Linked DNA regions of Homo sapiens. The protein of the gene in region 2 purifies or fractionates together with the protein of the main gene of each other region. This does not show direct contact. Each region holds a gene or a part of one and is shown on either strand. Other genes may lie near its edges.

Evidence for each region.
Region 1: the proteins of ZSCAN1 (region 2) and ZNF174 purify together in Homo sapiens (affinity purification with mass spectrometry; 3 studies listed by BioGRID and IntAct, with this or other methods). This does not show direct contact.

Annotation. Positions count from the first base shown.
Region 1 is NC_000016.10:3,404,215-3,408,048, reverse strand, and holds part of ZNF174 (zinc finger protein 174), read right to left. Parts: intron 3,624-3,834; coding exon 3,401-3,623; coding exon of another isoform or gene 3,276-3,400; exon of another isoform or gene 3,141-3,275; coding exon of another isoform or gene 3,061-3,140; exon of another isoform or gene 2,008-3,060; intron 1-2,007. UniProt on the Homo sapiens protein: Transcriptional repressor.
Region 2 is NC_000019.10:58,031,651-58,037,731, forward strand, and holds the start of ZSCAN1 (zinc finger and SCAN domain-containing protein 1), read left to right. Parts: upstream 1-2,374; 5' UTR 2,375-2,511; intron 2,512-3,092; exon of another isoform or gene 3,093-4,319; 5' UTR 4,320-4,361; exon of another isoform or gene 4,362-4,832; coding exon of another isoform or gene 4,833-4,843; intron 4,844-6,077; coding exon of another isoform or gene 6,078-6,081. UniProt on the Homo sapiens protein: May be involved in transcriptional regulation.

The DNA.
Region 1 (3,834 bases), on a different chromosome or scaffold from region 2:
CATCCTCCTTCTTCCTTTCTCCCTTTAGGGAAAGGTTTAGGAAATGAAGAACAGGGAAAAGCAAACCCATCAGAATTGGGTATCTAATGAAGAAGGAAGAGAGGTGAAATCTCAACATTGCAAATTTTACTGCTGTAGTCCAATGCCTGAGCTATTTCAACAAATACCCCTCACTTAGTAAACACTAATTGACAACCACCTTCTCTTCAAAAGATGGTAAGTTCAGAGACTGTGATGTTTTCTTTCATTACAAATTTGACAGTATATGAGTTCAGAAACTGGAATCAGGGCTTAGCCATGTATCCTAATTACAGAAGGATTGACAGTCTGGATGGAGATGAGCTGGAACGGCCTATGGGAAATCACAGGATCTGGAGAAGGATCCCTTGTGATGTGGAAAATGTGTGTGTGCACACGTGCATGCACAGGCACATGCACGTTGTTCAATATGGCAGCCACTAGCCACATGTGACTATGTGGCTACTGGGTACTTGAAATGTGACTACTGTGACTAAGGAACTTAATTTTAAATTTTTTTTTAATTTTAATTCATTTAAATTCAAATGTAAATAATCAGCCTATACAATCAGGGTCAATTGCTTTTTGACAAGACAATTCAATGGGAAAAGAATAGTCTTTTTCATAAAGGATTCTAGGACTACTGGATTTCCACATACAAGAGAATGAAGTTGGACCCTGCTATGGTCTGAATGTTTATCCCCCCTGTCCCCTGACACACATATATTGACAGTCCCCAGTGCAGTGGTCTTGGGAGGTGGGGCATCTGGGAGGTGATTAGGTTATGAGGGTGGGGTCCTCATAAATGGGATTAGTGTCCTTATAAAAGAAACCCAAGAGACTACCATGTGGGGACTCATAGCAGGCACCATTTATGAGGAATGGGCCCTCGCCAGACACCAAATCTGCTGGCACCTTGATCTTGAACTTCCCAGTATCCAGGAACTATGAGCAACAAATTTCTGTTGTTTATAAATTACCTAGTCTAAGGCAATTTGTTGTAAGAGCCTGATCAGATTAAGACAGACCCCTGATCAGATTGACAGACCCCTACCTCAAAACCTATATAAAAATTGACTTGTTTATGTATGGGGAAAAAATAAACTTAAAATGGACCAAATAGCTGAAAGTAAGAGCTAAATCTATGTCTCCTTGAAGAAACCATAGCTGTACATATTTGTGCCCTTGGATTAGGCAGTGCTATTTTACATATGACACCAAAGCATAAAGAAAGAAAAAAATAGATAAATTAGACTGCAGCAAAATGAAAAACGTGTGCGTCAAAGGACACTGTCAAGAAAGTGAGACAACCCACAAAATGAGAGAAAAGATTTGCAAATTACACATAAGGGTCTAGTATCTAGAATACATAAAGGACTCTTATAAAAAATAAAGACAAATAACCTAATTTAAAAATGACCAAAGGATCTGAACAGATATTTTTCCACACAAGATATGTAACTGGATAATAAGCACATGAAAAGATGTTCAACACCATTAGTCACTAGGGAAATGTAAATCAAAACCTCAAATCAAAATTTCTCACCGAATAGGATGGGTATAAGACAATAACAAGTGCTAGCAAGAATGTGGAGAAATCGGAATCCTCACACAGTATTGGTGGGGATGTAAAATGGTGTAGCTGCTTTGGAAAACAGTCTGGTAGTTCCTCATAAGTTAAACATGGAATTACCACATGACCTAGCATATGGTAATTCCACTCCTAGGTATATACTCAAGAGAAATGAAAACATGTCTACACAAAAACACACATTTATAGCAGCATTCTTCATAATAACCAAAAAGTAGAAACAACCCAAAAATCTATGAACAGATGAACCAACATGAACAGAAAACCAACATGTAATATATCCGTACAATGCCTATTATTCAGCCACAGAAAAGGAATGAAGCACTGATTGATGCTACAGCATGGATAAAACTTGAAAACATGCTCAGTGAAAGAAGCCACACACAAAAGACCACATATTGTGTGATTCAATTTATTTATTTATTTATTTTTGAGACAGGGTCTTACTTTGTCACATAGGCTAGAGTGCAGTGGCACGATCTCAGTTCACTGCAGCCTCGACCTCCCAGGTTGAAGTGATCCTCCTGCCTCAGCTCCCCCAAGCAGCTGGGATTACAGGTGTGCAGCACCATGCCCCGCTAATTTTTGCATTTTTTGTAGAGACAGGATTTCGCCATGTTGCCCAGGCTGGTCTCGAACTCCTGAGCCTAAGTGATCCGCCTGCCTTGGCCTCCCAAAGTGCTGGGATTACAGGCGTGAGCCACTGTGCCCGGCCTGTGTGATTCCATTTGTATAAAATGTTCAGAATAAGCAATTCTAGAGACAAAAAGTAGACTGTGGTTGCCAGGGGCTAAATGTTTATGTTCCTCCAAATTCATATGAAATTCTAACTCCCAAGGTAATAGTGTTAGGACATGGGGCCTTTGGGAGGTGATTAGGTCATGAGGGTGCTGCCCTCACTGGAATGGGATTAGTGCCTTCATGAAAGAGCCCCACGGGAGCCTGTCTTCCCCTTCTGCCACATGAGGACTGAGAAGTAGGCAGTCTGTGACCTGGAAGAGGGGCCTCACTGGAACCCAACCATGCTGGCACCTTGAACTCAGACTTCCTAGCCTCTAGAACTGTGAGAAATAAACTCCTGTTGTTTATAAACTACCTAGTCTCTAGCATTTTATATTAGCAGCCTGAACAGACTAAAACACGAAGTACCTCATTGGATGTAGCAAATATTAAGAAACTGAGGATTTTTGTCGTCTTGTAACCCTCCTCCCTAACGTGCTCACTGTATCTTGTATTCACATCACCAGGCTTGGCCAAAATGTCACTGTCATTCAGGCTTAGAGATCACAGGACTGTGTAGAACAAGGCCAGCAGTTACACAAGTATCACACCAGAGAAAGGGAAATAGATTTGAGGATCTAAAGTACAAGCAACATCACAGAGGAGGACAAAGATATAAGATATAGGGTGGGTTTTTATTTCTACCAGGCCCCTCTAAACAGAGGAGCATTTTAAGCAATGAAACTCAGCCATAGCTTGCATGGAAGTTCATCTGTGGCCATATTTGGATCTGTCTTTTCTATAAGAAGTTCTGAAACGGACAGAAAAGTAGGTACAACCCTGTCATGCACTGGATTCTTAAATTTTCATTAACAGAAAACGATAAAAACATACTTACTTGTAGTATCACCACCATCCTAATTAGTGAAATTTGTTTAGTGAATAATCATCTACTATTATATATAACATTTAAAAAAACACACACATGTGGTCTATGCCTTTGCAGAACCATGAGATACATTGATGGAGATAAAGGGCTGATGAGAGGGAGAGAAAAGGCAGAGTGTTTACCTGTCCCAGCCAATTTGGGGGTTGGTTCTTGGAGGAGTGGGGATTTCTCCCAATGATGGGGGCTCAGCCGGTCATAAGCTCCTGCCTGGGAAGGCTCTGCTGGAGAGCTCTCCCTGAGATCTCTCCTAGGAGTCTGCGGTTGAAAGTCTGGCAGTTCCTGTTCTCCAAGCTGAGATCCAGTTTTCTCCAAGAGCACCTTTTGCCCCTGCATACAAACGGCCACCTAGGAACAAGCCCCATCCATTAATTCCATCCATCAGGACTGAGGGAAGCTTGATCTCTCACTGTTGTATAATGACCCGTTTACCTTGGGAATTGCTGATAACCATCTAGAGGTCAACTTTCATAGAAACCACTGAAACCCTCAAAGGAAGTAAAGGGGAGAACGTGAAGAATGACAGGAATGAGGATGCTACAAATCAGCCGAGTGGCTT
Region 2 (6,081 bases):
TTTTAATTGGGATTTCGAGTAAGATTTAATTTGGGACAAAGATTTCTACTGCTTAAAAAAATTTTGGTCCGGGTACGGTGGCTCATGCCTGTAATCCCAGCACTTTAGGAGGCCGAGGCAGGTGGATCACCTGAGGTCAGGAGTTCAAGACCAGCCTGGCCAACATGGTAAAACCCCGTCTCTACTAAAAATACAAAAAAATTAGCTGAATGTGGTGGTGGGCACCTGTAATCTCAGCTACTCTGGAGGCTTAGGCAGGAGAATCACTTGAACCCGAGAGGTGGAGGTTGCAGTGAGCCAAGATCACGCCTTTGCACTCCAGCCTGGGCAACAAGAGCAAGACTCTTTTTAAAAAAAACAAAACAAACAAACAAAAAAAAACTGAAACCTCTGCTAGACACCAGGCTGCCTCCCAATGGATCTAGAGTTACCAGGTGGCCTATGATGGTGTCTAGATCCAGACTCTAGAGACAGACTAAGTCAGTGTTCTCTCAAGGGAGATTTCCCAAATGGGTGGCAGTTATAAATGCACACATGAGCCTTCACTGCCCCAAAGGGCCACGCCAATTTCAGCTACCAAGAAAATGAACCATGTCATTACAAGTGCCTAATTTTCAAGAAGGAGAATAATAAGCCCTTAGCACCCTAATTTGGTTTTCCCATAGTGGTTTCTGCACAAAGTGGCATTCACACACAACATTCCAGGGACCAGCCGCCAGCAGCAAAGATGCGGAGACACGGCTCTGATTATCCAGCTGAGGCAGCCCCTCCCCTCCCTGCCACTCCTGGGACTCTTAATCTCCAGGCCTCGTTTTATTTTATTCTAGGTATTTATATTTCCATGAAGCATCTGCTTTGTTTACTGGTGTTTGCCCCATGAACATGGGCTTCCAAGGGACTAAAGCCCTATCAGTCCCTCTCACTGATGTGCTCCCACCCCAGTGTCCAGAACAGTGCCTGGTACACATAGGCCCTCAATAAACAGCTGTCCAGCAGATGCTGGACCCCCTGGAGGTGGGTCCTCCTCTCTTTTCTTAGCTCACACTCTCCTGCTTCTTCTTCAGCAATGAGCAGCTTCAGCTATCCTGAGCTCAGTCCCAGAGCTGAGGACCCTCCTTGCATCATGATCTCACCCCCACCTGATTTCAGATACAAAACGAGTATCTGTGGAACCCTACTATTCTGGCACATGGTTACATTGTAGACATTAATATTAAAACTTATTTATATGAAATGTTCTTATGTAAGGTTTCGTTAAAGTATATGAAATATAGGACACATTGATACTAATTCCTTGTTTTTCTTTTTCTTTCTTTCTTTTTTTTTTTTTTTTTTTTTTTTTGAGACAGAGTCTCACTCTGTTGCCCAGGCAAGGCTGGAGTGCGTTGGCAGGTCTCGGCTCACTGCAACCTCGGCTTCCCCAGTTCCAGCGATTCTCCTACCTCAGCCTCCCGAGTAGCTGGGATTACAGGCACGCACCACCATGCCTGGCTAATTTTTGTATTTTTAGTAGAGACGGGGTTTCACCATGTTGGCCAGGCTGGTCTGAAACACCCGACCTCAGGTGATCCGCCTGCCTCGGCCTCCCGAGTTCTGGGATTACAGGCGTGAGCTATCGCGCCCGGCCTCCTTGTTTTTCTTGAGTTTACATATAACTGAGGTTTCTTTTTTCTTTCTTTTTTTTGGGGGTGGGGGGACGGAGTCTCGCTCTGTCACCCACGCTGGAAAACTGGAGTGCAATGGAGCAATCTCGGCTCACTGCAACCTCCGCCTCCCCGGTTCCAGTGATTCTCCTGTCTCAGCCTCCTGAGAAACTGGGATTACAGGCATGCGCCACCACGCCCAGGTAATTTTTGTATTTTTAGTAGAGACGGGGGTTTCACCATATTGGTCAGGCTGGTCTCGAACTCATGACCTCGTGATCCGCCTGCCTTGGCCTCCCAAAGTGCTGGGATTACAGGCGTGTCACCGCGCCCGGCCGACGTCCTGTATTTTTATTTGCTAAGAGTGGCGATCCTAGTCTGGGACATACTTGTACTAAACATATTTATATTAAAAACAATGTTTTAACATACTACTCTTGGACACTGTATAAAACGGTTGCGTGTCTGGAATGCCGTCGTTTTGCCCCGCGGCCCCATCGTACATGCGCATCCCCGCAGCCGCCACCGTCTCCACTTTCCGCAGCAGCGTCCCTGACGCTGCGCGACCCGTTGCCAAGGCGACTGGAACCGCGGCCCGAGGTAACTGGAGGGCACGGCGGGGGCGGGGCGCTCATCCCAGGCGGCTTCTGATTGGCCTCGGCCGCCTCGTGCGTCACAGCCCCGCCCCTGCCCGGGAGTCCCGCAGCGGTGACTTGTCACCGACGCCCGGCGTGATCCAGCGGACCAATGGCGGCCGCCCGCGGCGCGCAGGGTGCGGGGATGGGGTCCGCCCGCGGCGTTGGGCGCGCTCGCCAGCCCAGGGGTCGCCATGACCGAGTGGCCCAGGCCCGAGCGAAGCCCGCGCGCGGTGAGTCCGCCGCGGCCCATCCGTCCCTCCGCCCGCCAGAGCGTCCATCGGGACGCCCACCCGGGAGGGTCTCGGCGCCGCGTCGGCGGGAGCTGGCCCGGGATCGCGGTCCAGGGGCGCGCGTCGGGGGAGGCGGGCCCGGGCCCGGGAGGGGGCGGGCCGGGCCGGGGTTCCAGAGCCCATCGGGAGTCCTGAGGTCGCCGTAGGGGAGGGAAGGGGAAGGCTAGAGGCCACGCGGGGCGGGGACTGGGGGGGCTGGGGCCGCCCCTTCCGCAGGGACCCCGACCCCTGTTGGCATCCGCCTGTCCGTTTGAGGCCGAAGCCCCTCTACGTACCCCCATTGCCCGCCCAAACACCGCTCGGCCGCGTCCAAGTTCTCCCTTCCACACCTGATCAGCATCCCGGGACCTATCTCCCTCCTGAACAGCCGCCCCCGGACCCATCTCCCTCCCTACCCGGCCCCTTGGGCCCATCCCCCACTGGAACAGCAGCCCCCGACCCGTCTCTCTCCCTACAAGCTCCCCCTCCCCGCCCCAGGCCCATCTCCCTCCTGAACAGCCGCCCCCGACCCATCCCCCACCCAATCACCCCACCATCCTCCCCCCAACCAGCCGTCCACAGCCGTCGTCGCTGCCCCTCCCCTGTATTCCCAGTGCGCTGCCCTTGCACACTTCCCCAGCTCGTTTATTATGGAACTCCTCCGTGTGGCATCCTAAGCTCCCAACGCCCTCCCCACTGTAAGCCCCCTTCTCAAAGCCAGAACCATTCACTGACTGGCGCAGTGAACACGTCTTCTATGTCACTAAGCATCCGGCATCAGCGGCAAAGCCCTTCTGCCCATCCCCGCAATAGAATTTGGGGCTCGGGCTGCAGATCTCAGTGCCCATGCCAGGTGAACCTGGCCCTTCCACAGGCACTGAGCCCTCCAAGTGACACTCTCTCACACACACACATCCCCAACATTAATCAGAGACCCCTACCAAAGTAGACTTCTAGGACCCCAGGGCCACCACAGCATTGCCCATGGGGGGGCCCAGATCCTCCTCACCAGCCATGTAGACCTCAGTCCCCTTCACATCATCCCAGGCCCTCTTCATCTTCCAGAAACAGCCACCCATCAGTCCAGGACTCTCATCAGCTCAGGTACCCCCACATTGGCCTAGGTGTTCCACATCAGCCCCCATATAGACCCCAGACACACCCATGGACCTCTGGTGCCTTCTGCTAAGACCTCCTCTTTACCCTCATCCCTGATAAACTTAGCATCTCCTCCCACAGACCTCAGCCCAGGACCCTGGAGGATGCTGAGGGGCTACAGCCCCCCTCCCTAGAGTCTCCAGGGTGAGCTGCCATGAGCACCTGAGAGAGTATAAGGTCTGAGGCCCCAGGGCAAAGGGATTTCTTGAACCTGTGGAGCTTCAAAATAGGCCCTTTTTTCTTATTCAAAACTACATATATAAAAGTGTGAATACAACATAAGAGAGCATTTTTGCCTGTGGCCTTGGCAGGGAAGACCAAGCTGGTAGTTTCCCAATCAGGGTGCAGGTGGCCGGGTACGCTGACTCGAAGATGGCTGGCTGGGCACAGTCCCCGTGAGTTGCCTTTCTGCCACCCTGCACCTCTCCTTTCTCCTGGATTGTAAAACCAGATGCACGAGAACTGCAGAGTGTATGAAAAATGCAGCAGAGGATGAAGAGGGAAAAATCCCATGGAATCCCTCCTTTTCACTTGTCATAAGCATTTCCCATATGGTCAAAAATCCTTCCTAAAGATGTCTTGTTTTGTTTTGTTTTTCCATGTTGATGAAGGTCACATGGGAGCCCGACACCATTTGGAGGAGATTCAGAGAAGTATGAACAGCACAAAGCACTTGGCCGCCCCCCATGGGCGTCTTCCCAGGACTCCCTTTCTATGACACTCACGCATCATCCTGCATCCCACGTTCCCTGTGCCTCATGTCATCTGTACATCATGTGTCTACTCCCCGTGGTCATGTCATAGTGTTGTGTACTGGGCACGGTTGAATACTCCCATCACATGATGGGGGAGGTAGTTGATCCCACCACGTTCAACTGTTGGGCACTTTTGTAGTGAATCTTGGTGCCTGAATCTCGCATCTTGCACGCAGTCTACCAAGTGTTCTTGATATATAAATGGCCACAGTGCTTTCCAGAAAGGTCGTGCCAATTTATATTCTCACCAGCGGATCAGTCCAGAGTACAATTGTTAAAGACAAACAAACGAAACCTCCCTGCTTATTTTTATTTTTACAACTTTTAATGTTTTCTTCAGTTATATGTTCACCATAGTCGGCTTGGAAAATGTACAAAAGGTAACTTCTTTTTTTTCTTTTCTTTTTTTTTTTTTTTTTTGAGACAGAGTCTTACTCTGTCGCTCAGGCTGGAGTGCAGTGGCACAGTCTCAGCTCACTGCAATCTCCGCCTCCTGGGTTCAAGCATTTCTCCTGTCTCAGCCTCCCGAGTAGCTGGGATTACAGGTGCGTGCCACCACGCCCAACTCATTTTTGGTTATTTATTTTTTTTGGGATGGAATCTCACGCTGTCACTCAGGCTGGAGTACAGTGGTGCGATCTTGGCTTACTGCAACCTCTGTTTCCTGGGTTGGAGCAATTCTCCTGCCTCAGCCTCCCACGTAGCTGGGATTAGAGGTGTGCACCACCACGCCGGCTAATTTTTGTATTTTTAGTAGACGGGGTTTCGCCATGTCGGTCAGGCTGGTCTTGAACTGCTGACTTCAGGTGATCCACCCACCCGGGCCTCCCAAAGTGCTGGGATTACAGGTGTGAGCCACGGCACCCGGCCACAAAAGGTTATTTTAAAATTACTCTTCCCACTTTCCCTCTCTTTTCAGAGTCTCCAGTCTCCCTTGCCCTCTTCCTGGTCTCCACCCCCAGCTTGGACCTGGTAGGAAAGTCAGGAAGACAGCAAAGATAACACCATGGGTAGACCTGCTGCTGGTGGTGGTGTCATCCATTATTATGTAGCCCACCTGGCTGCTTCCATTTAAATGGAATTTAAATTTAAAATTCAGTTCCTATTTCAGGTGCTCCTAGCCACACGTAGGTGGTTGCATGGGTAGAGAATCTTTACATCCCTGTAGGAACTTCACTGGGCAGTGCTGGCCACACCACGGGGCAGGCATTCTTGTTCCCGCAGCTCGTCAGTCAATGTGTGTTGAATGACTAAATGAGAGGGAGATAGACACTAAGTAAGGGGAAAAGTTGTGTTCAGAAAGTCATGGAGGTTATGAAGACAGTGCCATAAGGATGATGGCCAGGACATCTGCGAGGGGAGGAGCTGGGGTGGGAAGGGGAGGGGCTGGGGTGGGATGGCAGGTGCAAAGGTCCTGGGGCAGCCAGTGGCTTGAACTCAGTGCAAAGTAGCCTGTGAGAGGCATGTGGAAGATTAGGTCAGAAGGTGGGAAGAGGTCAGGTTGGTTCCTTGGGGTGCTGGAGGTCAGAACAAGGAAGTAAGGAGCCGAGGGGCATCCTGAGTACAGAGGGCCACCATCTGATGTGACCCCTCTGTCCCTGCCCCTCTCTGCAGGCCC